Linked DNA regions of Homo sapiens. The protein of the gene in region 7 purifies or fractionates together with the protein of the main gene of each other region. This does not show direct contact. Each region holds a gene or a part of one and is shown on either strand. Other genes may lie near its edges. The genes, in order: MSN, TRNT1, ALDH16A1, RBBP6, IPO5, SDSL and ATIC.

Region 1 (4,373 bases), on a different chromosome or scaffold from region 7:
GTGGTGACATGACCGTGGAGTTATGGCCATGGGAAGAGCAAGTTCCTCTGAGTGTGTAGAGCTGATCTCATGGGTTTCTTTATTTGGAAATGGCTCAGGCTCTGACCTTGTCTCAGGAACTCTTTGTAGCACTTCCCAGGAAGGTAAGTGTTTTGCTTTGGCTTGTGACGGGTGGTGGAAGGCATATGTGTAGGCTGAAGGGAGGTAGAGAGAGGACACTAGTCACATTTTCCTGCTTGAGACTAGGCCTTGCTGTCCTAAGAAACTTTAGAGAGTAATTTCTTCATCGTATTCATAGCCAGAGGGGTTAGGCAGCTTGTTCGAGGTCACATATAGTTGGTAACAGTATTGAAAGGAGAACTTGGATTTCCTAATTCCCAAGTTAGTGGTCTCCCACTGGACTTGGCTGTCTTAGAAGGATGACTCCACCCAGAGAGCACAGACTTCCAGAGAACTGGCTCTGTGGTGATTACATTAACAAGATGGGTACAATGGAGTTCCCCTAAAATGGTTTTGCTATAGCAAGTTTTTCTGGGATCTCCGATGACTGTCTTCTCTTCCTGTCTACCCCTCACCCCAGTTCCCTGCTTTCTCTTTGCCCTGTTTAATTTTGAGCTCTGACCTTTTTGAATTCTGAATTCTGACTCAGCGCTCCAGCTTGATCTGTCCCTTGAGTTAGGAGAACAGTATGGCACTTTTTCAATTTAGTGACAGTATTTGCTGCTGTAGCAAATTGTTTGAATGCAGACTAGAATCTCCTGGCCTCAAAGTTCACCACTCACCTCTAGGTGCTTATAGGCCAAGCCTGGGGCAGGAAGCTAAAAAAAGACCTTTCAAGCCTCCGTGGAAAGGAAGCATAGAGTAGTGTTGAAAAACAGACTCTGGAACTAGACTGCCTGGACTCAAATCTAGCTCTGCGACCAACTAGTTATATAGCCTTGGACAAGTTATTTAACTTCTGCACCTCATTTTCCTTAACCATAAATAATAATAGTACTTACAGAGTTGCTGTGAGGATTACATGAGGTAATTTATGTAAAGGGCTTAGAACTGTGCCTAGAATCTAACAAGTGATATACAAATGTTATGATTATTTACTGAATTTTACTATATGCCTAACTTTGTGCTAGATGGGATGGATAAGAAAGAAGACAGGTAGTTGAATTCTTACCATTTAATGAGTGGTTACTATGTACTATTTACCATAAGGGATAGAAATAAATGAAGGGATGATACAACTGCTGCCTTCAAAGATCTCCTATCTCCTATTTAATTGGGGATTTAGGGCTAATTCACTTAAAAACGGCTTGAGAAAAATATATACTTTGCATTGCATTTTCTACAACTTTTTGAGGAGAAAGGGTTTACTGGGACATGAACAGGGCCTTAAAGGGTGTGTACACTTGGGAGCAGTGGCCGTTCTGGGTGGGAAAGTGATGTGTTTTTGGTATGTGGGTGTAAACCAATGGCCCTAGACCAATGCTCTCTTGAAAGTTACTTTATCTGAAGTGAAGGGAGGCTTGAGCTGCTGACTGATTCAAGGGGAGCCACAGATATAAGCATAGATGAAGCTACTCTTTCTAGGGTAATTTGGATCCAACAATCCTTTCTTAATTGGCAAACAAGGGCCTGTGGGGGAGACCATACCTTTGGTTTTCCAGAATTGGGCAAATTAATTTTTTTTTTTTTGAGATGGAGTCTAGCTCTGTTGCCCAGGCTGGAGTGCAATGGTGCAATCTTGGCTCACTGCAACCTCCGCCTCCTGGGTTCAAGCGATTCTCGTTCCTCAGCCTCCCAAATAGCTGGGATTACAGGCATGCGCCACCACGCCCAGCCAATTTTTGTATTTTTAGTAGAGATGGGGTTTCACCATGTTGGCCAGGCTGGTCTTGAACTTCTGACCTCAGGTGATCCACCCGCCTCAGCCTCCCAAAGTGGTGGGATTACAGGTGTGAGCCACCACGCCCAGCCTGGGCAAATTAATTTTTAAAAATGTTGCTTTTGTTGCCTAAGTAGGTATGTGAGAGGGTCTTTTCTTCATGCTTACACATGAACTAAACCAAAGAATAGAGCTTGGCAATAACTTTATGTCAGCAGCCTAGAAACAGCTTTTAATTCTCTCATTGACTTTGCTATAAAATCAGGTATTTGGGAAAGGGTGGAGATGGCAGGGAGGATTTCTCAGTGTGTGGTTGTTAGAGGTGGAGGAGTATGACGTTTTCTGGCCAGGGCACAGCTGCAGCATCTGGGTCTTGAATTTGGAGAAAAGGCCTTTTGGGCGACTTTCAAAGCACAGCCCTTTGTCTGTGCCTAATGACACAGATACCAGATCTGATGCTCCTTTCAATCGGCTTGTTGTGGCATAAGGTAAGTGTTGACATAGCTCTTAGGCCACTAATATGGCAAATGGCTCTGTGCTTGCTTAGTAGAACTGTTTTGCCAGTTATCTTCTGTGATTGGTGACTTCGAATATTGAAGTTTCTTCCCATTCCTGGCAACCCTTCTACCTTGTGGGAATTTGATAGATACTTTGTGCATCCAGGGTAGTGATCAGGGCCTAATGAGAGAAGAGTTGAGATATGACAATTTGGTTGTACAAAACAAGATATAATCCTGAAAATTTTTTTCCTGGGTATATATTTGGGAAGTGACTGGGGCCAAGGCCTAGGAGGGGGAACAAGGCATACCTGTCAGGCTTGATCAGTATTTCTTTCCCTCTCTTTAGCCTTGGCCTCCATTAAATACCTGAGAAGGATCAAGTCTTATTTTTCTCAAGTTGTGTGTTTAGATAAGGTTCCTGATCTTACTTTCGTGATCTAATCTGCCTTCCCTCCAACCCATGATCCATTTCCTTTTTTTTCTTTTCTTTTTTTTTTGAGACGGAGTCTTGCTCTGTTGCCCAGGCTGGAGTGCAGTGGCATGACTTTGGCTCACTGCAACCTCCATCTCCTGGGTTCAAGAGATTCTCCTGCCTCAGCCACCCAAGTAGCTGGGACTACAGGTGTGCGCCGCCACGCCCGGCTAATTTTTATATTTTTTTTAGTAGAGATGAGGTTTCACCATGTTGGCCAGGCTGGTCTTGAACTCCTGACCTCGGGTGATCTGCCTGCTTCAGCCTCCCAAAGTGCTGGGATTACAAGCGTGAGGCACTGCGCCTGGCTGATCCATTTATTTTTTCAGATTCTCAGCCTGGATGTTTGATGAAGCTCACCAAGAGCCTCTTTTATCTGTTGTAATTTTTAACTGAGGTTGACTAATCTATGGTATAGAGTTGGAGGGTGAGGGTCAAGGTAACAGTCAATCTGGGCATCATTAGTTAAGTCGTACAAATCTTTGCTATTTTCAAGGGTTTTAAGTGAGCTAAACTCCTCTCCAAACATCCTTGTAGATACTTGTGGGAGACTGACTAATTCCTTTACAAAGAAGAAAAGTCACATAACTTCTTTGCCTTTTAATTTTCTTTTTCTCCAACATGAAAATATCAGCAATATTAGAAAGAGGCACATGGAGTTTGCGTGTGGTGGCTCATGCCTGTAATCCCAGCACTTTGAGAGGCTGAGGCAGGTGGATCATTTGAGGTCAGGAATTTGAGACCAGCCTGGCCAATATGGTGAAACCTTGTCTCTACTAAAAATAGAAAAAATAGCCGGGCGTGTTGGCGGGAGCCTGTAATCCCAGCTACTTGGGAGGCTGAGGCAGGAGAATCACTTGAACCTGGGAGGTGGAGGTTACAGTGAGCTGAGATCACGCCATTGCACTCCAGCCTGGGTGACAAAGCAAGACTCTGTCTAAAAAAAAAGAAAAAAAAAAAGAAATATGTAAATGGAAAAGAACAAACCCCCCTCCCAGGTTCCTTATTCCCCTTGGTGCCTGGGCCATTGTAGATCTAGCATATGCTTGGTGGGGACATCTGCCATTTGCTTTAGGGTTACACTACATCTTTCTACTTTGAGTGCTTGAAGAGTTGCTCCAGCAGGGCCTGATGTGGGCCTGGTGAAAATCTAGCCTAGTTGCCTTTCTGTCTGCCATAGCCTGGGCATTTTCCTAAGGTTGGGAGTTTTTTTCCTTCTGGTCTTAGGCCAGTTGCCAGAGGAAACCGATGACTAAAGGCTTCCTCCCTGCAACGTCAACTTCTGGAACCTTTCCTGATGATTCCTACCAGTCAAGTCTGCCTTATTTGGCTATTTTCTCCCCCCTCAAGTTACTCCCTCTCCTTGCCACCCCACCTCAACTAGTCCTCTGTTCTCCTTTAGTACAGGGAATGCCTTCTTCAAGTTTATACAATACCACCTGCAAACTTCTTTTCTTCTTGTTTAGAGTCCTAATATGGGGGAGGAGTGGGGAAGGAGAGAGGAAGATGGGAGAGCTCTGGA
Region 2 (3,665 bases), on a different chromosome or scaffold from region 7:
CTTTGTTCCTTTCCATTTTCTTTAACTTCTCTGAGATACTGATTTGTAAATTTTGAAAATTAGTTAAAATATGCAGTTTTTTGAGCCCACGAATAGTTGTCATTTCCTTTATGTGCCTGTTAGTAAAAAGTAGTATTGTGTATTTGCTCAGTATCTGAACTATAAGCCCATTTATACTGTTCCATACAAAAGCTATTTTTCAAAAATTAATTTGAACCAAAACTACTACTATAGGGAAAAGATGCCAAAACATGTCCCCTCACCCAGACTAAACTTGATACTGTATTATTTTGTTCAATGTAAATTGAAGAAAATCTGTAAGTAAGTAAACCTTAAGTGTGAAACTAAACATGTTCTTTGTTCAAATAATGTAAAATATCTACTCATAATTTTAAAGTTCTAAAAAGGCTGCTTTGCCACCTACCTCTTTGCTTATATTCAAGGGTTTAGTGGGTCCTTCCTTCCACATTTGTATGATAACTTTCGTTTTATTGGTAGTCCTTTGCTACTTTAAAACTAATCAGGTTAAATGTTTACTCAAATGTAGTAATAGTATGAGGCCAAAATACATGCCTTGAAGGTGGAGTGAAATCAGTTGAGTGTCACACTGCATATTTATGTAAATAGAGTAAATGAAAATTCAAGAATACTTCCAATCAGGATATGCCCCTGCCTTATTTTTTCTAAGGTCTACTTTTACTACTTTAATAATTTTGGGTTTGTGTGACTTCACTGGTCTGGTTTGTTCCTATAGTTCTTACACTGCACTAAAACTTACTTACTCCAGGAAGTTCCTGTCAGTAGCATAGTACCTCTCTGTAGGCTGAACTCTAAACCAGTTGCAATGAGTTACCTTGTCCCTCTGAAAAGTTAAAATTTCAGTATGTCCCATACCGTTTACTAGCAAATAAAATTTTCTGATCTGTAAAAACACACATATACTATACTACTACTGAAAATGGTTTTACACATGACAAAACCAGACCTGATAGCTAAATCTGCATACTTTCTATACAGAAATAGTATGTATTATATGACGTTGGGTCTAAATCTGTATTTTGGCAGTACTTAAATATTTTAAGTAAGTATTTCAAAGTATTATTTTATAATGCATCTAATTACTGACCTGTATGCAGTCATTTCTGAGGCTTTCTTGCATCATAGCCCCTGTGACATTTCCTCTTAGAAATATTACACTCTACAAAATTGTTTTATCAAGGTCCAAAATTACTATTTGCTCATAGAGTACAAAGATGTTATGACTGGCTACACAGAAAGGAAATAAATTATGAAATGTCAGTATAGCAGCTGAAATTATAGCAGCTGAAATAAACAGTTTGTATTATACATTTTATTTACCTGATGAAAGCATTTAGGACTCAAATCTTTAGAGAATATATAATAATAGCCATATCCTTTTAATTAATAAAATAACACTTTAAAGACAGGCATATTACCATTGTATATGACACCTAATACACATTGTCAGATACCACATAAACATATTTATCTTCCAATACCAATGTTTGTTTTATTAAAACAATAATTAATTAATAGGCTCAATAGTGACCCTCAAGTTAATCCCATGACTTCCCCAGGCTCTGCATGCATAAAGAAATCATTGTGACAGAAAAATATCAACCACATACTGAAGCATAGCTTGCTAGAACAAATCCTGTACATATGAATGCCAGCAACTGGGGACACATTTAGTATTCACATTTTATGCAAACTTACTTGGTCAATTATTTCTTTTTTAAGCACAGGTTTATTTTGGAATTCAGATAAGAACTGACACATCATAGACAGTCATTGTTAAGGTAACCCTGTTATTTCAATTGCAAACAAACAATAAACGTTTTTTCTTCAAGACAGTTACCACTTTTTAAGATCTTAGTACTACCCTATGCAAAAACAGTTTTTTTTAAAAGCCTGAACAGGTTAAGATAGATAATAGCCAACTATGTTTTCTCAGGTGAAACTATTCCAAAAGAACTGTACATTTCAGTGATATAAATCAGATCCAGAAAGGTGGATCTCTGTTTAGTTCTTGAAATATATAATTCACAAAATAAGACCCTTGTTGTTCTACAGAGGTCCCCTAAACTGTCTTTTATTCTGGTGTAGTCTCTAAAACCTCATTAAGAGGGAGGGGAGAAAATTTAGTCTTACCAGAAATGCTCTGCTTTTTAGTAGCCATCAGTTTTAGGTCTTCTTTATGTAACTCAGAAGTTCATCTTTTTCCATTTGGTAACCACTTTTTTTCCACTGTTCTCGCAACTGTTGTAATAGAGCCCCAATTTCTTTTCCTGAAGAAATGCCCACTTTTCTGATGTCATGGCCACTTACAGGAAATGGAGGAATGGACCACTGCTGCATTTCCTTTAGGAGACAGTGCTCTCCTTGGTACTTCAGTAGTTCACATACACGAGTAGTTGCATCAGGTTCCCTAGACTACGTGTCAAAATCAAACATTTAGTTTCGTCACACATGAAAACATACACTTACAATCTTATCCTAAAATTTAAATACTCAACATAAATTTTTTCATTTAAAATAAGTAAAATTCACAGATTTGTAGATCTTAGTTTTAATAAATTAATTCTAAATTCGTGACGATACTTCATATTTCTGACCAAGCCTAGTATATACTTACATCTATAATGAAGTCTTGATAGGGTTTCAATGGGTCTGAACTATCTGTTGCTTTAATTAAATCTTTCCTATTTTTAACTATAAATAAGCCAAGGTTTTTCTCCTCTTTTGCGATCTTCAACCTCAAATCCAATTTTGTGACATCATCTTGTACTTTGAATAATGAGGCCAAAAGAGTCACTGGCTTTGGTGAAAAACCATCAACATTTTTACTGACTTTGTCAAATTCTTCTAAACTTGCATTAGCAGGTAAACCTGTAGGGACAAAAGCATTTTTCACCTGTTTTTAGTGGGGATAAAAAACCACTCATATCCTAAACCTTGCCACCATTTTAGTATCCAGAAATGCTTTGTCACTAGGATACATTATATAGGTTCAGTCTGATGTTCCAACTTAAAGGCGAACCACTAATATATTGTTATTCTCTCCCCTGTCACCTTCAAAACCTCTAAAATGTTCTTGTTTCCATTAAAGCTACATCAAGAGTTCCAGGGGTAGTGGTGACAGTGGTGTCAGACTCACAAGGCATACTCTTTCTAATCACAAATTCCTGACTTTACACTGATACAAGATCCACCCCCCATTCAGTAATGTTACTGAAATTTGAAATATGCCCAAGCTTACCGAAGTGTGATAAACCATATAATCCCACTATTCTCTGTGAAAATGAATTACAACGTTTACTGAACAATTTCTGTGTACAAGTCACTCTTCTAAAAGAGCTTTACATGTATTAACTCACTGAATCCTTTTAGCTTTCCTATTAGATAGAGGCTACATTACTTTTAAACCGCTTTTTTGGGTTAGAAACTAACCCAAGTTGCAAAGACTAGATAAGGGGCTGAGCTTCCTTCAAACCTAGGTCTGACTAGAGACTACTCTACAAGCACCACAAGCTGTCTTTGAGCTCTTCCCTACTCACGACAAAACTTACCCCATAACCCAAACTTTGTCTTATTTTAAAATACTCCATTTCTCCAAGAATTCTTCAACCAAATGAGTCAAACAT
Region 3 (4,373 bases), on a different chromosome or scaffold from region 7:
TTTTGTGGAGACAGGGTTTCACTGTGTTGCCCAGGCTGGTTTCAAACTCCTGGCCTCAAGCGATCCACCCACTTTTGCCTCCCAAAGTGCTAGGATTACAGGCGTGAGCCACCATGTCTGGCCAGGTATTTTTTGTTTTTTGTTTTTTTTTGTGACACAAGGTCTCACTCTGTCACTCAGGCTGGAGTGCAGTGGCACGATCTCGGCTCACTGCAACCACTGCCTCCTGGGTTCAAGCAATTTTCCTGCCTCAGCCTCCTAAGTAGCTGGGACTATAGGTGCCCACCACCGTACCCAGCTAATTTTTTGTATTTTTAGTAGAGACCAGGTTTCACCGTGTTGCCCAGGCTGGTCTCGATCTCCTGACCTCGTGATCCGCCTGCCTCAGCCTCGCGAAGTACTGGGATTACAGGCGTGAGCCACTGCGCCCCCAGGTGTTTCTTTACAGCAATGTGAGAACCGCCTAACAGCCCACTAAATTGATTTTAGGGTCCAGGAATGGGTCGCTATCCATCATCTGGCGAACGCTACTCTACGAGGCGGGTTGTGTGCCCACTCACTGTACAGATGAGGGAACTGAGGTAGGGAGAGGTGAAGCCACTTGCTGATGATCCTGCCGTGGAAGGCGGTGGGGCTGGGCCCGAATTCCAAGCCTGGGTTATCTCACAGCCTCTGGTCTGAGCCCCACCCCGCCTGCCCAGCTGGCCCAGGTGCCCACAGACCCTTCACCTGCAGGGTGTGGCCTTGGGCCTGCACCCGGGCCCCCCACGCCCGAAGTCGTCTTGCGCTCAGCTCCACCTCCGCCTCCGCAGCCTTGAGCTCCGCTCCCTGCCTCTCCAGCCTCGAGGCCAGGGTAGACTTCCGGCGCTCCAGTGCAGCCGCCAGGGCCCACAGCAGGGCTGCCCGGGCTCCTGGGGACTGGCCCGCCCAGCTGTGGGCAGACAGCGCACAGTGGGGGTTGGCATCCTGGTCTTGGCTCTCCTGACACCCCACCTCTGTCCACAGCCCCTACCCTGGGGGCCCAGCCTCCCAGTCCACCAATTGCTGTGGGCAGGCTCCCCTCTCTGCCACACCATGACCCTTGGGCTTTCCCGTGTGACCCCTTACCCAGGGAAAGCCTGGTGAGCGGCCTCCACAGCACCTCGGATGTCCTTGGCTCCACCCTCAGCCACGTAGCCATGGAGGTTGCCAGACGAATCCCGGATGGGCCTGGAGCTTCGGGCCCCAGGAGCCTGGAAACGGCCCCCAACGAAGAGCCCATAGGGGGGTGCTGGGCTGGAGTAGGGTGGGACATGAGGAGGAGTCCTGGGGCCTCAATCTGCTCAGACCCTATGCTCTACCGCACTGGGAAGACTGCCTTGGCTCCCGTGAGCCTCTGGGGCACCCCAAACCCCTGTTCCCATGAGCCTCTGGGGGACCCTAAAACTCCTGCTCCCATGATTCACTGGGGGACCCTAAACTCCAGCTCCCATGAGCCTCTGGGGGACCTTAAACTGCTCCCATGAGCCTCTGGGGAACCCCAAATTCCTGCTCCCATGAGCCTCTGGATGACTCAAGTTTCTGCTCCCATGAGCCTCTGGGGGACCCCAAACCCCTGTTCCCACTAGCCTCTGGGTACCCTAAACTCCTGCTCCCATGAGCCTCTGGGGGACCCTAAACTCCTACTCCCATGAGCCTCTGGCAGACCCTAAACTGCTCTCATAAGCCTGTGGGGCACCCCAAATTCCTGTTCCCATGAGCCCCGGAGGACCCAAAGCTTCTGCTCCCATGAGCCTCTGGAGGACCCTAAGTTCCTGCTCCATGAGCCTCTGGGGGACCCTAAGCTCCTGCTCCCATGAGCCTCTGGTAGACCCTAAACTGCTCCCTTGAGTCTCTGGGGGGACCTCAAACTCCTGCTCCCATGAGCCTCTGGAGGACCCCAAGTTTCTGCTCCCATGAGCCTCTGGGGGACCCCAAGCTCCTGCTCCCATGAGCCTCTGAGGGACCCCAAGCTTCTGCTCCAGTGAACCTCTGGGGGACCCCAAGCTCCTAGACCCATGAGTTTCTGGGAGAGTACAGACATTCATGGGGCAGAGCTGAGAGTCTCGGCAGGCCTGGGGTAGGGAAAGTGTGAGGCCACAACGTGGTACTCAGCAGGACTAAGAGATGGTTTGGATGGACCTCGCGCCAGCCCTCCAGTCCACGGGGAAACAGGCATCAATTCCCCTCTCCCCGTTCACACTCCCAGACCACTGGCCCCCAACGACTCACCTGGGCCCTATTTCAGGCCCAGCCGGCAGGGTTGAGGGAACAGCGAGGCCAAAGGTGTCATAGTTCAGGTTCTTGGAGAGGCAGGACAGCCGGGCAGGGGTCCCTGAGGGCCGCAGATACTCATACAGCCCCTGTGAGAGGGACGGTGTCAAGAGGATGCAAGGGGCACGCGAGGCCGGATGCGAGTGTCAAGGGCATGGGGCGGCGGGGGGGCTGGTGACGGGGAGGGGATGTACTCACGTCTGGGCCCCCGTGCCAGGAACACCCACTCTCCTTGCAGCCGCCTGTGGGCACCGAAGGGTCTCTGAGGCCGTGGGCGTTGATCCAGACAGTGCCCACCTGGAGCCTGTGGGGAAGATGAAGGTGTCCAACAGAGGAAAACAGACGGTGGCAGGCCGGGAGAGGGGTGAGTTAAAGGCGCGGGGAGCGACCCAGGGAGAAGGGAGATGAAGATGGAAGAATGAGGAGAGGAGTGAGCGCCCGGGCCACGCAGACTGACCCATAGCCCAGCTCCAGCGCCTGCCCCAGCCTCTCGCTCCACACACTGGCGCTGCCCCCGCGGGGCGTCCCGTTGGCCACCAACAGTGCCTCCTTGGCTGTGCGGAAGGGGGAGGCCACGACCACAGGCCACGGCACCTGCAAGGGGTGACCGGGAGGCTCAGCCCTCCAGGGCCCACCCACCAGGGAAGGAGCCTAGAGCAGGCAGCAGCCCCCACGCCCAGGTCACATGGTTACCCCAAGGGCTTCCCCAGGCACAGAGCTGCTGCCCTTGGCTGGCGGTGGGTAGGAGCTCTGCAGCCTTAAGGGTCTCACCTCCACCTGGGCACATGGGGAGGCTGGGGGCAGGTTGGAGACCAAGGTTGGGGGATAGAATGGGCGTTCCGAAGGCACATCACCAGCCTGGAACACCTAGGGAGAGAAATGATCTAGAAGTCGACTTCTGGTCCCTTCCTGCTGAGACCGAGGACTGCAGGACCCCAGCCCCTCCTCCCTCAGACCCAGGAGTCCAGGCCCCCAGCCCCTCCTCCCTCAGACCCAGGAGTCTGGACCCCCAGCCTCTCCTCCCTCAGACCCAGGAGTCCAGGCCCCCAGCCCCTCCTCCCTCAGACCCAGGAGTCTGGACCCCCAGCCCCTCCTCCCTCAGACCCAGGAGTCCAGGCCCCAGCCCCTCCTCCCTCAGACCCAGGAATCCAGGCCCCAGCACCTCCTCCCTCAGACCCAGGAGTCCAGGCCCAGCCCCTCCTCCCTCAGACCCAGGAGTCCAGGCCCCCAGCCCCTCCTCCCTCAGACCCAGGAGTCTGGACCCCCAGCCTCTCCTCCCTCAGACCCAGGAGTCCAGGCCCCCAGCCCCTCCTCCCTCAGACCCAGGAATCTGGACCCCCAGCCCCTCCTCCCTCAGACCCAGGAGTCCAGGCCCCAGCCCCTCCTCCCTCAGACCCAGGAATCCAGGCCCCAGCACCTCCTCCCTCAGACCCAGGAGTCCAGGCCCAGCCCCTCCTCCCTCAGACCCAGGAGTCCAGGCCCCCAGCCCCTCCTCCCTCAGACCCAGGAGTCTGGACCCCCAGCCTCTCCTCCCTCAGACCCAGGAGTCCAGGCCGCCAGCCCCTCCTCCCTCAGACCCAGGAGTCTGGACCCCCAGCCCCTCCTCCCTCAGACCCAGGAATCCGGGCCCCAGCCCCTCCTCCCTCAGACCCAGGAATCCGGGCCCCAGCACCTCCTCCCTCAGACCCAGGAGTCCAGGCCCAGCCCCTCCTCCCTCAGACCCAGGAGTCCAGGCCCCAGCCCCTCCTCCCTCAGACCCAGGAATCCAGGCCCCAGCACCTCCTCCCTCAGACCCAGGAGTCCAGGCCCAGCCCCTCCTCCTTCAGACCCAGGAGTCCAGGCTCCCAGCCCCTCCTTCCTCGGACCCAGTTGTCCACGCCCAGCTCCCTCCTCCCTTGGACCCAGGAGCTGGGTCTCCAGGCCCCTCCTCCCCTGACACCCTCAAGTCTCTACCCCCTGCCTCACCTGTGCACCCTGGCTCTGGGCCTCACGCACAAAGCGCTGGACCAGGTCACATGCGGCAGCCCCCCGGGCCCCCATGTCCACGGCCCCATCCAGCCCTCGGCCACTCCGAAGCCGCC
Region 4 (4,373 bases), on a different chromosome or scaffold from region 7:
TAATTCTTATCTATTCATTAAACTGAAGTCCTGTCAAGATCCCCATTTGTTGGATATGAAAGTAGAAAAAAACTTTTAAAATTTTGTATTTTAGAAAAGATTTGCTCATTTAAAAAAAACCCTCATATAAGCTTGAATTTTGACATTTTACATAAAAAATGTTAATCTGGCACATGAAAGTTTACAATAAAGAGCAGCGACCCGCTGCCTAGTTTGGACCTTCCATTATCTAGTTTGCCTAGTTTGGACCTTCCATTATCTAGTTTGCAGGCAATCATCTGAAGATTATTGTAAACATCTACTCACTGTTCCCAGCCTGGTCGACCACCACCTGGACGAGCAGTATTTATTCTTACTGGACCTAGAAACAAAAAATAAAAGCAGTAGGTAAATACAAAATTGCACATTAAATCAAGCTAAAATTATTTTTTAAAGGGAAAAAGGTCTAAACCAAAGTGATCTTACTCACCAGTTGTGGGGATCAACTGTCCATGCAATAATGACTGTCCAAGCAAAGATGGGGTTCCAAGAACAGGCACCTGGTAACCCTTTAGAAACAACCACAAATAAACAGAAATAGTTAAAAAAAAAAAAAAAAAAGAGGTAAGAACAAAGCCAGAAAAACAAAACCCTGCTGTAAAAAAAATCCCAAATTAAAGCACCAGTAAAATTTACCTTCTCTTCCATAAGAGCGGTAATTGCAATTGAGGAGGTTCCCTTTGAGTGCTCTGATGCAAGAGCTGCAGCTGGCAATATTTTATTATCAGAATCCCTTTAAAAAACATAAATTATAATACATTAAAAATTATCAGAAATGGACAATTAAGAGTAAAAAAGTTTGCTGCTGTTTACCCATCACCTGCAGTTAAGATGAGTTAAGTCAAAGATGATGAATACTTCTGAGGAAAGTGAGAGAAGGCTGAAACTTTGAAGAGTTCTCTATATGTAGTAAGTGGAAAAGTAAAATGAAGGACCTCCTTAAGAAGATACTACAGTTATGACAGAAATCAGTTGCAAGAATAGTAAAACTTAAAATCAAAGTCTGGCCTATGAAGACAAAAATCCCCCTAGGATTAAGAGTTAAGTTTTAGCTCTAGTTCTACCACTAAACTGAAAGGATAATCTTGGGTCAGCCATAGAACTCTCTGGGCCTATTTCCACTATCAACCAAATAAATTCCACCAGATCAGTGGAATTTCTTAAATGTAAATGTAAAGGTCTCATCCTAAAGATTTTGCTTCAGTGTGTCTGAAATGGGCCTCTTACACCTTTTTTTTTTTTTTTTAAAGAATTTATGAGACATTAAACTACATGGACAAAAGTCTCATTTCTGAAGTGGTAGGCTGTGAGTTTTCACTATTCTCCTACATAATAATTATGCTCCAAAACAATCACTATTCCTGACTTCTCTACTTACCTGTGTTTTTACCCCCTCTTCTCTACCTATCTAAACTGTTCTTAGTTCTACTCAAAACTACTCCTATCCAAAACTATCATTATGATCACAAGTGAATTCTCCCACCTCTGTTAAGTTCAGAGCTGTTATGGTATATGGAACATTCAACGTTTAATAGGGGCTGGTTGGCAACCTGTGTAGTATTTGACCTCAGGATGCTTAATCCTCATTTGCCAAATCAATCACGTTTGTTTTCCTCTTCCCCCAATAAGACTAAGTCACTTCTTACAAGTCATCCCACATTACTGAGCACAGTGGTCCACTAAGAAAGCTGTTAAAAGTGATAACCAACAACAAAACACTACATCATTGACCTCATTTGGTTTCTAACAGTGAAAAACACACAGGCTTACCGAAAAGGTCCATCTGATTTTTCTGAATGAACTGATATGGATACTGTTGCAGTTATATCAGGTACAGGAGCTGGAGCAGAAGACGGATTTCCAGACACAGGAGGGGCCAAGGAAGACTGATTAGAAGTTAATGAAGATATAGACGGAGCTGGGTGAGTTGATGAAGATGTCACTGGAATCATAAGAGGATCTTGTTGTCTTGATATCGGAGATCTCATCAGAGGTTGTAGGTTCCTCTGAATCAGTGGTCTCGGAGGTGGTATTGGGGGTGGTGGAGGAGGTAACTGTTTTCGTAGTCTTTTTGTATAGCCAGTTTCATTTTTGAAGTTATTTACAGCCTACAGATACCAAGCATAATAATGCAGAAAAATGTTATGCAGTATTCACTGAAGTACAGTTAAATCAGTTAAAAAGAATTTTTTCATAAAATGGATACAGACAGTTACCTGTCGTAAAAATTTATTGGCAATTAAAGCATCAGGAGAAACATCATTTTGATGACACGTCGGACATGTGTGCTCATCTGATTCCAGGAGTGCTGTTCTTATACCTATGTATAAGATTTCAAATATTAATAAAAGCATAGTAGGAACTCAAAGTGTTTACGAAATGAATTAAAAGGATGGTCCACATTTGTTCAGTTACATTACTGTTTTCCAAGCATGTCGTGCTAATCATTTCTTAGATTAAGAAACTTAAGTAAAATCTCTCATCTTACAGTACTCCTCTGCTCTTTTCTATATGACCTATGCTACGCTAAAAAGAAGTCACAGCTGGGTGTGCTGGCATGTGCCTGTAATCCCCACTCCTGGGGAGGCTGGGACAGGAGAATCACTTGAGCCTAGAAGTTCAAGGCTAGCCTGGGGCAAAATAGCAAGGATCCCCCACCCCATCTTTTTTTTTTTTTAAACAAATGTCTGAATTGAGAGCAAAAGCACTCTTTCTCAAAGACTATTCTTTGTTTAGCTAGTAACTGGAATATTGTAGAAAACAAAAGAGAAATATAAGATAGTCTAGAAAGACAAAAATTTTACATGGCTAACTTGGGGTTTTTATTCAGGCAAGGAAATGAGAGACCTACAGCACAGTACGTGGGAGCAACACTAAATTACAGATACGAAGATTAAGCTTCAATGTAGTAAAACTCCAGTAATACCAAGTGGTATGTTAAATCTAAGATATAATCTGAAACAAGTCTTTAGCAACCTCTTCTTGACCTTGGTCTTCACTGAAGAGGTCAAAAAATAAAGATTTACAGGTATCCAAAGGGGATGGGTTCCAGAACCCTCTGAAGATAACGTCTGTAGATGCTCAAGTCACTCAACTGCCCCAAAGGCATAGTATTTGCATATAATACTATGTACATCCTCCAGTATACTTTAAATAATCTCTAGATTGCTTGTAATACCTGCTGCAATATAAATGCTATGTAAATAGTTGTTATACTCTTATTTTAAAATCTGTATTAGTCTTTACTATTATTTTTTACTGTTTTCTTGCCCCCAAATATTTATGATCTGTGGTTTTGAATCTGCAGATGCAGAACCATGTGTATGAGGACTGTATATTTCAAAACTACCTTTAAAAATGAAAAAGGCCAGAGCAGGCTTGAGCAAATTTTCAGGTAACACTGATTTCTTCTGTGTAAGAAGGCACAAACTTAGGATAAGTGGCAGGAAACAACTAAGTGCTAATATAAGTGATTTAAAAAGTCACAACTGCATGGTAAATGCTGGGTAATAAATATGTCTACAGATGTCGGGCGCGGTGGCTCACGCCTGTAATCCCAGCACTTGGGGAGGCCGAGGTGGGCGGATCACGAGGTCAGGAGATCGAGACCATCCTGGCTAACACAGTGAAACCCCGTCTCTACTAAAAATACAAAACATTAGCCGGGTGTGGTGGCGGGCACCTGCAGTCCCAGCTACTTGGGAGGCTGAGGCAGAATTGTGTGAAGCCAGAAGGCAGAGGATGCAGTGAGCCGAGATTACACCACTGCACTCCAGCCTGGGAGACAGTGAGACTCTGTCTCAAAAAAAAAAAAAAAAAACAAAAACTGTCTACAGGAATCAGGTGTTAATACACTTAGAAATATTAGGATAAGCTATTCACAATCCAGGAAAAAGATTTAGATACCACTTAAAAATATTTCCAGAATTATCTAAGGCCCAAAAAAGTTTTAAAATTCTGGATACCACTTAAAACATACAGGAAACAAAAAGTCTATATTAAGAAAAACACCTCAGTATAGTCACCCTGATGAAGGTACAGAAGTCAATTCTAGAATTTAAAAGGACAAACAGGTTATTGTTTAAAAAAGATACAGCAAGAAAAACAGACTTCTCACTACTTAATGCTCATTGATCAACACTTGTCATCAACATTATTTATTTTATTATTAAAACATATGAGGTTGGGAAGAGCCATTCCAAGTAAATACAAATATTCTAAAATATACATCTTCCAAGATTCAGCACTTCTTACATTCATCACAGTAACTGTTTCCACAGCAGGGAATCACAACAGCATCAGTCATAATATCCTTGCAGATGAGACACAACAAT
Region 5 (4,373 bases), on a different chromosome or scaffold from region 7:
ACTAAAGAGCTTCTGCACAGCAAAAGAAACTGTCATCAGAATGAACAGGCAGCCTACAGAATGGGAGAAAATTTTTGCAATCTATCCATCTGACAGAGGGCTAATGTCCAGAATCTACAAATAACTTAAACAAATTTACAAGAAAAAAACAACCCCATCAAAAAGTAGGCAAAAGATATGAACAGACACTTCTCAAAAGAAGACATTTATGTTGCCAACAAACATATGAAAAAAAGCTCATCCTCACTGGTCATTAGAGAAATGCAAATCAAAACCACAATGAGATATCATCTCATGCCAGTTAGAATGGTGATCATTAAAAAGTCAGGAAACAACAGATGCTGGCGAGGCTGTGGAGAAATAGGAATGCTTTTACACTGTTGGTGGGAGTGTAAATTGGACAAACTGATTCTAAAAATTCATCTAGAGTTGCAAGAGACTCTGAGTAACCAAAGCAGTCGAAAAAAACAAAATTCAAAGGATTAACAGTTGCTGAATTCAAGGCTTACTATAAAGCTGTAATAATGGCCGGGTGCAGTGGCTCACACCTATAATCCTAGCATTTTGGGAGGCTGAGGCGGGCAGATCATGAGGTCAGAAGATCGAGACCATCCTGGCCAACATGGTGAAACCCCATCTGTACTAAAATACAAAAAATTAGCCGGGCGTGAGGGTGCATGCCTGTAGTCCCAGCTACTTGGGAGGCTGAGGCAAGGGAATTGCTTGAACCCAGGAGGCGGAGATTGCAGTGAGCTGAGATTCCACCACTGCACTCTAGCCTGGTGACAGAGCTAGACTCCGTCTCAAAAAAAAAAAAAAAAGCTATAATAATTAAGACACAAGTGTTACCGGCATAAGGACAGACATATAGATCAATGGAATTGAATAGTGACTCCAGAAATAAACCTTACATGTGTTGTCAGACTGATTTTTGACAAGGATACTGTGATGGTTAGTTTTATGTTTCACTTGGCTAGGCTGTTGGAGCCCCGTTGTTTGGTCAAACAGCAGTCTAGATGTTGCTGGGAAAGTATCTGTGGATACAATTTAACATTTATAATCAGTTGACTTTAACTAAAGCAAATTACCCTCCACAAGGTGGGTGGGCTTCATCTAATCAGTTGAAGGCCTTAATAGCAAAGATGGAGGTTTCTGGGGGAAGAAACAATTCTGCTACAAGACCACAGCACAGAAACCTTGCCCGAATCTCCACCTGCTGGTTTGCCCTTCAGATTTCAAACTCAAGACTACAACATCAACTCAAACCTGAATTTCCAGCCTGCTAGCCTGCCCTGCAGGATTTGAACTTTCCATCTCTCATAATTATGTAGCAGATTCCTTAAAATAAATCTATCTATCTACCTTTTTTTTTTTTTTGAGACAGTTTCACTCTGTCACCCAGGCTGGAGTGCAGTGGCACAATCTTGGCTCACTGCAACCTCTGCCTCCCAGGCTCAAGTGATTCTTGTGCCTCAGCCTCCTGAGCAGCTGGGACTACGGATGTGCCTCACCATACCCAGCTAATTTTTTGTATTTTTAATAGAGACAGGGGTTTCACCATGTTGGCCAGGCTGGTCTCGAACTCCTGACCTCAAGTGATCTGCCTGCCTGGGCCCCCCAAAGTGCTGGGATTACAGGTGTGAGCCACTGTGCCCATCCATCTATTTCTTATTGGTTCATTTTCTCTTGAGGACCCTGGCTAATATAGGAGCCATGACTGTTCACTGTGGAAAGATTGTTGCCGGTACAACTTGATATCCACATGCGTTAGAATGAAGCTGGACCCATACTTCACGTCATAAAAACTTCAAAGTGGATCATAGACTAAATGTAAGAGCTAAAACTATAAAATTCTTACAAGAAAATATAGGACTAAATCTTCATCGCTTTGGGGTAGGCAATCATTTTTTAGCTATGACATCAAAATCACAAAAGGCAGAAGAGAAAAATGGATACATTGAACTTCACAAAATTAAAACCTTTGTGCTTTTAAGGACACCATCAAGAAAGAGAAAAGACAACTCATAGAATGGGAGAAAATATATGCAAATAATGTATATTTTTTGAGACAAAGTCTCACTCTGTCACCCAGGCTGGAATGCATTGGCATGATCTCAGCTCACTGCAGGCTCTGCCTCCCAGGTTCAAGTGATTCTCCTGCCTCAGCCTCCAGATTAGCTGGGATTACAGGTGTGCGCCCCCACGCCCAGCTAATTTTTGTATTTTTAGTAGAGATGGGGTTTTGCCGTGTTGGCCAGGCTGGTCTTGAACTCCTGACCTCAAGTGATCCACTCACTTTGGTCTCCCAAAGTGCTGGGATTACAGGTGTGAGCCACTGCGCCTGGCCACAAATCATATGTCTTATAAGGGACTTATATCCAGAATATTTAAAAAGCCCTACTCTCAATTAAAAAAAGACAACCCAATTAAAAAAATGGGTAAAACATTTGAATAGACATTTCTCCAGAGAAAATATACAAATGGCCAATAAGCACATGAAAAGATGTGCAACATCATTCATCATTAGAGAAATGCAAATCAAAACCACAATGTAAGTTACCACTTCATACCCAATAAAATGGCTTTAATAAAAAAGGCAACAGCAAGTGTTGACAAGAATGTGGAGAAATTCAAACGCTCATACTTTGCTAATAGGAACATAAAATGTTACAGCCAATTTGGAAAACAGTCTGAATAAGCTGGGTGTGGTGACGCATGCCTGTAATTCCAGTTACTCGAGAGGCTGAGGCATGAGAATCACTTGAACCTGGGAGGCAGAGGTTGCGTTGAGCCGAGATCGTGCCATTGCACTCCAGCCTGAGTTACCATTTGACTCAGTAATTTCACTCCTAGGTATATGTGCAAGAGAAAAGACAACATATGTTGACACAAAAACTTGTACATGAATGTTCATGGCAACATTATTCACCACAGCCAAAAAGTGGAAACAATTCAACTGTCCATCCACTGGTGAATGGATAAACAAAATGTCTTCTAACTATACAAGGAAATATTACTTCGCAATAAAAGAATAAAGTAATGATACATGTAACAACATGAGTGAACCTTAAACTCATTAGACTGCCTGAAGGAAATCAGACAAAAAGACCACACATTTTTTTGGTCCCACTTATGGGAAATGTCCAGAATCAGCACATCCATAGACAGTAGATTGGTGCTTGCCATGTGCCTGGGCATGGGGTGGGTAGGGGAATCAGTGAGTGCTAGCAGGTATGGAGTTTTCTTTTAGGGTGAGGAAAGGGTGATAGTGATGAATGTGCAGCCCACTGAATATACTAAACACTCCATTGTACACTTTAGAAGGTTGAACTTTAGGCTGGGTGAGGTGGCTCATGCCTGTAATCCCAGCACTTTGGGAGGCTCAGGCGAGTGGATCACCTGAGGTCAGGAGTTCGAGACCAGCTTGACCAACATGGTGAAACGCTGTCTCTACTGAAAGTACAAAAGTTAGCTGGGCGTAGTGGTGCGCGACTGTAATCCCAGCTACTCAAGAGGCTGAGGCAGGAGAATTGCTTGAACCCAGGAGGTGGAGGTTGCAGTGAGCCGAGATCATGCCATTGCACTCCAGCCTGGGTGACAAGGGTGAAACTCCATCTCAAAAAAAAAAAAAACCAAATAAATAAAATAAAAAGTAAAATTTGGACTTTATGGTGTATGAATGTCTCAATAAAGCTATTATATTAAAAATACATTTCCTTAGAGAGCTGAAGGATATTGATTTAGACCTCAATTAGTGATTTTTTCCCCCTATCATTCACAGTATTTTTACCTTAGTTCTGAATCCTTGAGTGATAACCATTCATAACCTTCAAACTTCGGAGAATTCCTAAACCAATATTTGTGGAGAGGGAGAATGGGGAGATTCAGATATGATTTGGTCTGTAGACTTTCCTTCCCATCTTTTTGCTACTTACAGCAAGTATCTTACAATTTGGACACATGACATACACATTTCACCTCCTGCATTGTGAGGACATACATAATGGAGTCTGAATTGTGACATCGATCTGCATCTCATAGTTGGAGCTATTGGCAGCATGGATTTTTAGTCATCCACAGTTAATGAGGAACAAATGAAAGGGACCTTATAATGGTTCATAGGCTTCAATTCCATGCATCCTATGTGTAGTACTGCTTGATGCCACATTTAACTGCAGTAGTATTTGTTTAATGAACATTTTCTTCATTCATTTGTTTAGAAAAATATTAGGCACCCCTCTGTGGGAGGTGCTGCTAGGCTGTGGGGATTCCACGGTGAGCATGCGGACAGGGTTCCCACCTTCAGGGAGCTTAGCTCTTTTGAAAGAATTCAGATAATAAACAAGTAAACTGATAAGATACTTGCATACAGT
Region 6 (4,373 bases), on a different chromosome or scaffold from region 7:
TGGGTCCCAGCCACAGCTCATCGAAAGGAAAAGGAGACAGGATGTCTTAGGGGTGGGGTGAGGTGAAGGAGAGCAGCCCACCCAGATGGTTCTCCCCTTCCCAGAGCCCTTACCTTTCCAGTCAGCTGAACCTCGGCCCCCTCCCCCTGCAGCCTCTGCACCACCTGCAGGGAGGTGCTCTCGGGGAGCACGATGGTGGCAGGAATGCCCAGCTTCCTAGCAGCATAGGCAGCAGCGATGCCCGCATTACCCCCTGTGCAGAAAGGAGGAAAGGGGCAGTGGGCAGAGCTGATTGGCCTTTGATATGCCTTCCCCTCCCCCTCCATATCCCTTCAGAGTCACTCGTCCCCAACATTCATATGCCCCATTGACTCCTTCCTCCACTCAAGAGGGGGACACATAATTTAGGTTGAGCCAATCAGAACCTAATCCCCCAACCCATGATTGGTTCAAGGATGAAGACGCCACCCAAGCGGGGCCAAAAAAAAAAAACAATTCCAGGATTGAGGCGAGGCATCGAGAAGGGGTGCTCCCTTTTCCCTAGGGTTGGGAGGCTGGTAGGATGCAAGGCTGGAATTCCTGGTGGCCATCTTGCTACCATGAGGCCCACCTAAAAATAAAGCTAATATGCAGGAAAGCAAAGTCCAGAGAAGGAGAGACAGAGAGGAGAGCTCCTGGATCCCCCTGTGCCTGAAAGCCACTTATCCCAAGAATTTTCCATTCTTAGAGCCTGTAGCTTAAACCTATATGAATTGGGTTTCTGGCACTTGCTACCATCATGAGTCCTGAACTATGGGAGAAGGCTAGGATGGGATGTACACAGTAGTCATCTCATCAATGACCTTGATGAGGCTGGGCCTTTAAGAGGAGACCAACCCTGGATGTGTACTGCCGCTCCAGCCTATTCCTCCTCCCCCAACCTCTGCCCATGAAACAAAAAAAGGTGGGGTCACCTGAGGAGCACACCAGGTGTCTGCATCCCTTCTTGGCCATCTGGGAAGAGAAGGAATGGGGTTAGCGGCTAACCCAAGCAGGTGTCATGAAGGCCTATGTGGAATGGCGTTAGAGTCTCCCCATCCCACTCCCAATACGCCTTTACCCCTCATCCTGCCCACAGCCCTGCCCTTACCTTTCCCCTCCCATCTGCACGAGTTCATGTTTCCCCTCCTGCCCGAACCCGTCCCCAGCCCACACCCCTCACTCTTCCCTCCCTCCTGCACAACCTCACTTCTCCCCTCCTTCCCACACACCCTCACCTCCTGGCAGAAATGCCCAATGCCCCGAATCTTGAAGGAGCCGCTGGGCTGCACATTCTCACACTTGAGGAAGACAGGCATGCCCGCCACCTGGGACAGCGCCCAGCTCTCCAACAGAGGTGTGACCACGTGAAAGGGCTCCTGCTTGGCATGCTCTGCCACAGGGCCGTCCATTCTGGAGACCAGGTAGACAGCCTGCAGGAGGACACAAAGTCACCACCCAGGCAGTCCCCATCAAGAGTTCCCTTAACCAGGACAGGGAGGGGAAGGTGGAGAAAGCCCTTGGCTTAGGTGCCCTTCACTTCATCCAGCTGCTGAGCTGTGAGACCCCCATCAAGTATCTGTGACTCTCTGGGCCTCAGTTTCCCCATCTGGTCAAAGAAGTTTGGCCTGGGGTCCTTTCATTCCATAAGTGTGGCTGTGCTGGGGATGTAGAAAGTGGCCAATATATGGTGAGAAATGAATGAGAGAGTGGGAGAATTCATTCCTCAGTCAAAAAATACTTATTCAGCACCTACTATGTGCCAGGCATTTCCAGGTTTGGGGACCCACGAGTCATAAAAAACCTCCCACTAGGAAAAGTCACAGAATTTCAAATAGGAGTGACTTGCAGAGGGTATGGGGTGTTATTTTAGCAAAAGCAATCATGAAAGACATCTCTCAGGAGGAAAACTTTGTAAAAACGTTTGTTATGGAAAATGTAAACATAGCAAAAGTATTGAGAACTGTATAAAGACCTTCAGCTGGCAGGGGCACAGCGGCTCACGCCTGTAATCCCAGCATTTTGGGAGGCCAAGGCAGGCAGATCACTTGAGGTCAGGAGTTCGAGACCAGCCTGGCCAACAAGGTAAAACCCTGTCTCTACTAAAAATACAAAAATTAGCCAGGCATGATGGTACACACACTTGTAATTCCAGCTACTCAGAAGGCTGAGGCAGGAGAATCACTTGAACCTGGGAGGCGGAGGTTGCAGTGAGCCAAGGTTGTGCCACTGCACTCCAGCCTGGGTGACAGATCGAGACTCCGTCTCAAAAACAAACAAACAAACAAAAACCCTTCAGCTTCAGCAATCAACTCATGGTCTAACTCGCTCCCCTATCGGTGCCCACTCCCCCTTCCTGTGTCATTATTTACCCCTTAATTACTATTATTCTTTTATATTATTTCACCTGTAAATATTTCAGCATGTCTCTCTGGAGGTAAAGAACTTGTGTTTTTGAGACAGAGTCTCACTCTGTCACCCAGGCTGGAGTGCAGTACTGTAATCACAGCTCTCTGCAGCCTCGACCTCTCAGGCTCAAGCAGTCCTCCCACCTCAGCCTCCTGAGTAGCTGGGACTACAGGCACACATCACCACGTCTGGCTAATTTTTGTACTTTTTTGTAGAGATAGGGTCTCACTATGTTGCCCAGGCTGGTCTCAAACTCCTAGGCTCAAGGGATCCTCCTGCCCCAGCCTCCCAAACTGCTGGGATTACAGGCGCGAGTCACTGCATCTGGCCTAAGAACTCCTTTTTTATATGTAACCATATGGTTTCATGACTGTACATACATTTGTTCAAACACATTGAATTCTATACTTAAAGTGGGCTAATTTTATTTTATGTAAATTATACCTCACTGAGGCTAATTTTTTTAAAAATGTAATCACAATACTATGATCACATCTAAAAATATAATTTTTTCATATCATCAAATATCTGTTAATTGTTCACATTTCAAATCATCCCATTAAATATGATCAGTGGCTGATTCTGTGGTTGGTTGTGGTTTGGGGTTTTTCACGGTTTGAATCAGGATGCAAATCAGATCCGTGCATTTTGATTGGCTGAGGGGTCTTTTAACTCTGCCTCCATCTGTACGTTCTTGAAAGGGGAACTTTGAAATGGATGACAGGAAGAGAGCCAAGAGGAAAAGTTCCTACAGAGAACAGCAGCCAGGACCACCTCGAGGGAGAAATGCACTTTGGGGTGCCGCGGATGCAGACAGAAGGGGTTTGGGGCAGGAGGTGAGGGTAGGGGGTGAGGGCGGAGATGTGGACAAGGGTGCCAGCAGGGGGTTCCCGCCCACGGAGAGGAGTTTGGTTGTTATTCAAATTCTACCTGCAATGGAAAGCCATTGGGAGGTGGTGGTGGAGGTGGTGGTGGTGTTGGTGGTGGTCGTGGTGTTTTGAAAGGGAGTCTCGCTCTTGCCCAGGCTGGAGTGCAGTGGTGCAATCTCTGCTCACTGCACCCTCTGCCTCCCGGGTTCAAGCGATTCTCCTGCCTCAGCCTCCCGAGTAACTGGGACCACAGGCACACGTCACCACGCCTGATTAATTTTTTGTATTTTTTGTAGAGACGGGGTTTCACCATGTTGGCTGGTCTCAAACTCCTGAGCTCAAGTGATCTGCCCACCTCGGCCTCCCGAAGTGCTGGGACTACATCCGTGAGCCACCGCGCTCAGCCCTTTGAGAGGTTTGAAGCCGAGGAGCTGTGTGTGAATGGACCAGTGGGTAAGGACGAAAAGAAGAGATGGAGGAAATGAGAGGGAGGAAAAATAGTAGAGAAAAAAAAAGGAAAAAATACAGCCAGCTCCTCTTGTCCCAGGCAGAAAAGCACTGGGCCGGTCCCCACCATTCCATTATTGGCCGCTAGGGGGGGCGCTGCAACTTCCCCTGCCCACTCACAAACCTAACCTTCTTGTCCACCCTTAAGTCATGGCTGGGGTTCCAAGATCAGAGAGATCAGGGTCTCTTGGCCCTGAGTTTGACCCCACGCCCTTGTCAGAATAGCCTTGAGAATCCTCAGGGCCCCCTCGGGCAGGGCACAGCCTGAGCCACCTCTTCCCAGTCCCACCCAGGGCACCTCTCAGCTTCGGGCATCAGGGGAAAGAAGCCCATGGGTCATCACTGATCCCCAAATGCCGCATACCCCAGCCTAGGCCTCAGCTCAACCCTGGACCCCAAGAGCACAGGCTTTGGGGTCGACCAGAAGCAAAAGTTAGAAACCAGCTCCGACTTCCTGGCTGTGTGACCCAAACAAGTGTCACAACCTCTCTGTGCCTGTTTCCCCTTCTCTAAAATGGGGATAAAAACAGTCCCCAACTCACAGGTTGTGGTGTAAGTTAATAAGAATAA
Region 7 (4,373 bases):
TCATTTGTTGATGGACATTTGGGTTGTTTCTACTTTTTGAATATTATGAATAATGCAGCTATAAATATTTGTGTATAAGTTTTTGTGTGGACATACACATTCGTTTCATTGGGGTATATACCTAGGAGTGGAATTCCTTGGTCATATGGTAACTATGTTTAGCTTTTGAGGAACTGCGACCCTGTATTTCAGAGTGCTGCACCATTTTACATTTCCAGCAGCAGTGTGCTGGATGGGGCTCCAGTTTCTCCACATCCTCATCAACGTTACTATCTGTCTTTTTGATTCTAGTCATTCTAGGGGTTCTGAAGTGGCATCTCATTGTGGTTATAATTTGCTTTCCAAATAATGTGGAACACCGTTGGATGTGCTTCCTAGCCAGTTGTTTACCTCCTTTGGAGAAATGTCTGTTGAGACCTCTTGTCCATTTTTAGTTGAGGTATTTATCTGTTTATTATTGAGTTGTAAGTTTATTTCCTCTCATTCTATGGATTGTGTTAGCCTTTCTTGATGGTTTCCTTTGATCATCACAAGTTTTTTCTTTTTTTTGAGACGGAGTCTTACTCTCGCCCAGGCTGGAGCACAGTGGCGTCATCTTGGCTCACTGCAACCTCCACCTCCCGGATTCAAGCGATTCTGCCTCAGTCTCATGAGTAGCTGGGGTTACAGGTGCCCGCCACCACACTTGGCTAATTTTTTTGGATTTTTAATAGAGATAGGGTTTCACTATGTTGGCCAGGTTGGTCTTGAATTCCTGACCTCGGGTTATCTGCCCGCCTTGGCCTCCCAAAGTGCTGGGATTACAGGCTTGAGCCACCATGCCCGGCCCACAAAAGTTTTTAATTTTGATGATGTTGAATTTATTTTTTCTTTTGTTGCTTGTGTTAATGGTGTCATGTCTAAGAAACCATTGCCTAATCCTCAGTGATGAAGATTTTTGTGTATATTTTCTTTCTTTTTTTTTTTTTTTTTGAGATGGAGTTTCGCTCTTGTTGCCCAGGCTGGAGTGCAGTGGCGTGATCTCGGCTCACTGCAACCTTCGCCTCCTGGGTTCAAGCGATTCTCATGCCTCAGCCTCGCAAGTAGCTGTGATTACAGGTGCCCGCCACCACGCCCAGCTAATTTTTTTGTGTTTTTAGTAGAGACGGGGTTTCTCCATGTTGGCCAGGCTGGTCTTGAACTCCTGACCTCAGGTGATCCACCTGCCTCGGTCTCCCAAAGTGCTGGGATTACAAGTGTGAGCCACCGCACCCGGCGTGTGTACATTTCTTTTAAGAGTTATTTTAGTGTTAGCTCTTATACTTAAGTCTTTGGTTCATTTTAAGTTAATTTTCATATACAGACATGAAATAGAAGTCTTATTTTATTTTGTATGTGGCTGTCTAGTTGTCTCAGCATCATTTGTTGAAAAGACTGTTCTTTGCCCAATCGAATGGTCTTGGCACCCTTGGTCCATGTGCCTGCTGTTATGCCAGTACTACACTATTACTATAGGCTGGTAACAAATTTTGAAATCAGCAAGTGTGAGTCCTCCAACTTCATTTTTCTGTTTTTTGTTTGTTTGTTTGTTTTGTTTTGTTTTGTTTTTGAGACGGAGTCTGGCTCTGTTGCCCAGGCTGGAGTGCAGTGGCGCGATCTTGGCTCACTGCAAGCTCTGCCTCCCGGGTTCACGCCCTTCTCCTGCCTCAGCCTCCCGAGTAGCTGGGACTATAGGCGCCCGCTACCATGCGCAGCTAATTTTTTTGTATTTTTAGTAGAGACAGGGTTTCACCGTGTTCGCCAGGATGGTCTCGATCTCCTGACCTCGTGATCCGCCCGCCTCGGCCTCCCAAAGTGCTAGGATTACAGGCGTGAGCCACTGCGCCCGGCCCCAACTTCGTTTTTTTTATTCAAGATGACTTTGACTCTTCAGAGTCCCTTGCATTTCCACATGATTTTTAGAATCAGCTTGTCCATTTCTGCAAAACAACGCAGTTGGAATTTTCATAGGTATTGTGTTGAATCTGTAGATCAATTTGGGAAATGTTACCATCCTAAGAATATTAAATCTTCCAGTCTGTGAACATGGGGTGTCTTTAATTTCTTTAACATTGTCTTGTGAAGTAGAATTGTTTTCTTAATTTTTTTCTCATTCACTGCTAATGTATATTTTAATACAATTGATTTTTATATATTGATCATATATCCTGCGGCTTTGCTGAACTCATTTATTAGTGCTAAAAGGTTATTTTTGTGAATTTGGGATTTTCTGTATACTAGGTGGTATCATCTGCAAATAGATATAACTTCACTGCTTTCTTTCCAGTCCTGATGCCTTTTATTTTCTTTTCTTTGCTAATTGCTCTGGCTAGAACTTCTAGTACAGTGTTCAGTAGAAGTGGTAAGAATGGACATTATTGTTTTGTTTCTTTTTTTTAAGATGGCGTTTTGCTCTTGTTGCCCAAGGCGGAGTGCAGTTGCGTGATCTTGGCTCACTGTGACCTCCGCCTCCCGGGTTTAAGTGATTATCTTGCTTCAGCCTGGGGTTACAGGCATGTGCCACCTTGCCTGGCTAATTTTGTATTTTTAGTAGAGATGGGGTTTCTCCATGTTGGTCAGGCTGGTCTTGAACTTCCAACCTCAGTTGATCCATCCTCCTGAGCCTCCCAAAGTGCTGGGATTGCAGGCGTGCGCCACCTTGCCCGGCTAATTTTTGTATTTTTAGTAGAGATGGGGTTTTACCATATTGGCCACGCTGGTCTCGAACTTCTGACCTCAGGTGATCTGCCTGGCTCAGCCTCCCAAAGTGCTGGGATTATAGGCATGAGCCACTGCGCCTGGCCTCTTGTCTTGTTTCTGAGTTGAGTAGACAAGTATTTTAGTCTTTCACCATCAAGTATGATGTTAGCTGTGGGTTTTTCTTACACTTTGTCATGTTCAGTAAGTTCCCTTCTATTTTTAATTTGCTGAGTGTTTCTATATGAATACCTGTTGAATTGTGTCAGATCCTTTTTGTACATCTATTGAGATGATCAGGTGGTTTTTGCATTTTTCTGGATTCAGTTTGTTAGTGTTTTGTTGAGAGTTTTTGTGTGAAGATACCTAAGAGATACTGGTCTCTAGTTTTCTTGTGACATTTGTCTGGTTTTAGTAGGAGGGCAGTAGACTTAATAAAGATGAGCTGCAAAATGTTTCCCCTCCAATTCTGTTCTTCTGTTTTTGTTTTTGTTTTTTTTAATTAGTTTTCAGCAGTTAGGCTTGTTTGGAGCCTGCCCGTAGAGCTCCTCGCACTACAGGCCTAGGAGTGGAACTGTACTTCACTGATTGTTAATTTTAGATTACTTCTGTATTTTAAATTATTCTTTTGGCATTCCTGTTACCATCATTTTTATGACCTCTCTGAAGGCAAAACAAATGTTTCACCCTTAGAATGCTCTGATATTTTTCATCATTGTGCCAATCCACTGGAAAAAGAATCTAAATTCTAATGTTCTGGATAATAGTGATCACATTCCAAAATGAGAATGTTATCTGTAATCTTGTACTTTATACTTCTATTAAAATGTTCTATAAATTTTTCATGGCTTGGTGGTTCTGGGTAGCTAAGGTTATGCAAGCAGCAGCGTTGCAGTGTGACGTGGAGGGAGTACTGTGTATTCAGATCCGGGGAGCACCTGCTGACTAAATTACCTCTGCTCGACCCCAGCAGGACACCCTGACTTTTTAACACACTCGTTAGAATTCTAAAATGTCAGGCTCACAGTTTATATATTAGTTCTCTATGGCTTTTGTTTACGTTAATAGTACTGACTTGTTTTTTTCCTAGATAGCTGTAAACCACATGAGTGGACTTTTTAATGACAGCCAGATTCGTCTTTGTTTTATAGAGTTGTTGCCTGCAATCTCTATCCCTTTGTAAAGACAGTGGCTTCTCCAGGTGTAACTGTTGAGGAGGCTGTGGAGCAAATTGACATTGGTAAGTCAGAAAAACCATTTTAGAAGACTGAGAGGAGAGGATTATTTAAATTTTAGTGAGATTTCATTTTGAATTTTATTACTGAGGAAATAGAAAGAAAATAGCTACTTCTGGATTGTGTTTTGGGATTACTATAATTCATTTATATTTTCTTTTTTTCATTTATATTTTCTAAGCTTTTTTTGTATGCAGAGATGCATCTGGGTTATTTTCCTGATTTATTTATTTATTTATTTTATTTTTATTTTTTTGAGATGAAGTCTTGCTGTGTCACCCAGGCTGGAGTACAGTGGCACAGTTTTGGCTGACTGCAACCTCTGCCTCCTGGGCTCAAGTGATTCTCTTGCCTCAGCCTCCTGAGTAGCTGGGATTACAGGTGCACACCACCACGCCTGGCTAATTTTTTTTGTATTTTTTA

Evidence for each region.
Region 1: the proteins of ATIC (region 7) and MSN fractionate together in Homo sapiens (co-fractionation; one large-scale study listed by BioGRID). This does not show direct contact.
Region 2: the proteins of ATIC (region 7) and TRNT1 fractionate together in Homo sapiens (co-fractionation; one large-scale study listed by BioGRID). This does not show direct contact.
Region 3: the proteins of ATIC (region 7) and ALDH16A1 fractionate together in Homo sapiens (co-fractionation; one large-scale study listed by BioGRID). This does not show direct contact.
Region 4: the proteins of ATIC (region 7) and RBBP6 fractionate together in Homo sapiens (co-fractionation; one large-scale study listed by BioGRID). This does not show direct contact.
Region 5: the proteins of ATIC (region 7) and IPO5 fractionate together in Homo sapiens (co-fractionation; one large-scale study listed by BioGRID). This does not show direct contact.
Region 6: the proteins of ATIC (region 7) and SDSL fractionate together in Homo sapiens (co-fractionation; one large-scale study listed by BioGRID). This does not show direct contact.

What each region holds. Positions count from the first base shown.
Region 1 is NC_000023.11:65,673,967-65,678,339, forward strand, and holds part of MSN (moesin), read left to right. Parts: intron 1-4,373. UniProt on the Homo sapiens protein: Ezrin-radixin-moesin (ERM) family protein that connects the actin cytoskeleton to the plasma membrane and thereby regulates the structure and function of specific domains of the cell cortex.
Region 2 is NC_000003.12:3,146,695-3,150,359, reverse strand, and holds the end of TRNT1 (CCA tRNA nucleotidyltransferase 1, mitochondrial), read right to left. Parts: intron 2,911-3,665; coding exon 2,657-2,910; intron 2,455-2,656; coding exon 2,206-2,454; 3' UTR 1,337-2,205; downstream 1-1,336. UniProt on the Homo sapiens protein: Nucleotidyltransferase that catalyzes the addition and repair of the essential 3'-terminal CCA sequence in tRNAs, which is necessary for the attachment of amino acids to the 3' terminus of tRNA molecules, using CTP and ATP as substrates. tRNA 3'-terminal CCA addition is required both for tRNA processing and repair.
Region 3 is NC_000019.10:49,462,640-49,467,012, reverse strand, and holds part of ALDH16A1 (aldehyde dehydrogenase family 16 member A1), read right to left. Parts: coding exon 4,258-4,373; intron 3,160-4,257; coding exon 3,064-3,159; intron 2,887-3,063; coding exon 2,750-2,886; intron 2,597-2,749; coding exon 2,491-2,596; intron 2,382-2,490; coding exon 2,251-2,381; intron 1,276-2,250; coding exon 1,108-1,275; intron 932-1,107; coding exon 730-931; intron 1-729.
Region 4 is NC_000016.10:24,559,598-24,563,970, reverse strand, and holds part of RBBP6 (E3 ubiquitin-protein ligase RBBP6), read right to left. Parts: coding exon 4,294-4,373; intron 2,360-4,293; coding exon 2,256-2,359; intron 2,148-2,255; coding exon 1,810-2,147; intron 773-1,809; coding exon 676-772; intron 549-675; coding exon 470-548; intron 362-469; coding exon 307-361; intron 1-306. UniProt on the Homo sapiens protein: E3 ubiquitin-protein ligase which promotes ubiquitination of YBX1, leading to its degradation by the proteasome.
Region 5 is NC_000013.11:97,959,821-97,964,193, reverse strand, and holds part of IPO5 (importin-5), read right to left. Parts: intron 3,848-4,373; exon of another isoform or gene 3,791-3,847; intron 1,035-3,790; exon of another isoform or gene 912-1,034; intron 1-911. UniProt on the Homo sapiens protein: Functions in nuclear protein import as nuclear transport receptor. Serves as receptor for nuclear localization signals (NLS) in cargo substrates.
Region 6 is NC_000012.12:113,425,040-113,429,412, reverse strand, and holds part of SDSL (serine dehydratase-like), read right to left. Parts: intron 3,517-4,373; exon of another isoform or gene 2,444-3,516; coding exon of another isoform or gene 2,426-2,443; intron 2,284-2,425; exon of another isoform or gene 2,162-2,283; intron 1,452-2,161; coding exon of another isoform or gene 1,431-1,451; coding exon 1,257-1,430; intron 994-1,256; coding exon 954-993; intron 254-953; coding exon 114-253; intron 1-113. UniProt on the Homo sapiens protein: Catalyzes the pyridoxal-phosphate-dependent dehydrative deamination of L-threonine and L-serine to ammonia and alpha-ketobutyrate and pyruvate, respectively. Also exhibits racemase activity towards L-glutamate and D-glutamate.
Region 7 is NC_000002.12:215,321,375-215,325,747, forward strand, and holds part of ATIC (bifunctional purine biosynthesis protein ATIC), read left to right. Parts: intron 1-3,866; coding exon 3,867-3,955; intron 3,956-4,373. UniProt on the Homo sapiens protein: Bifunctional enzyme that catalyzes the last two steps of purine biosynthesis.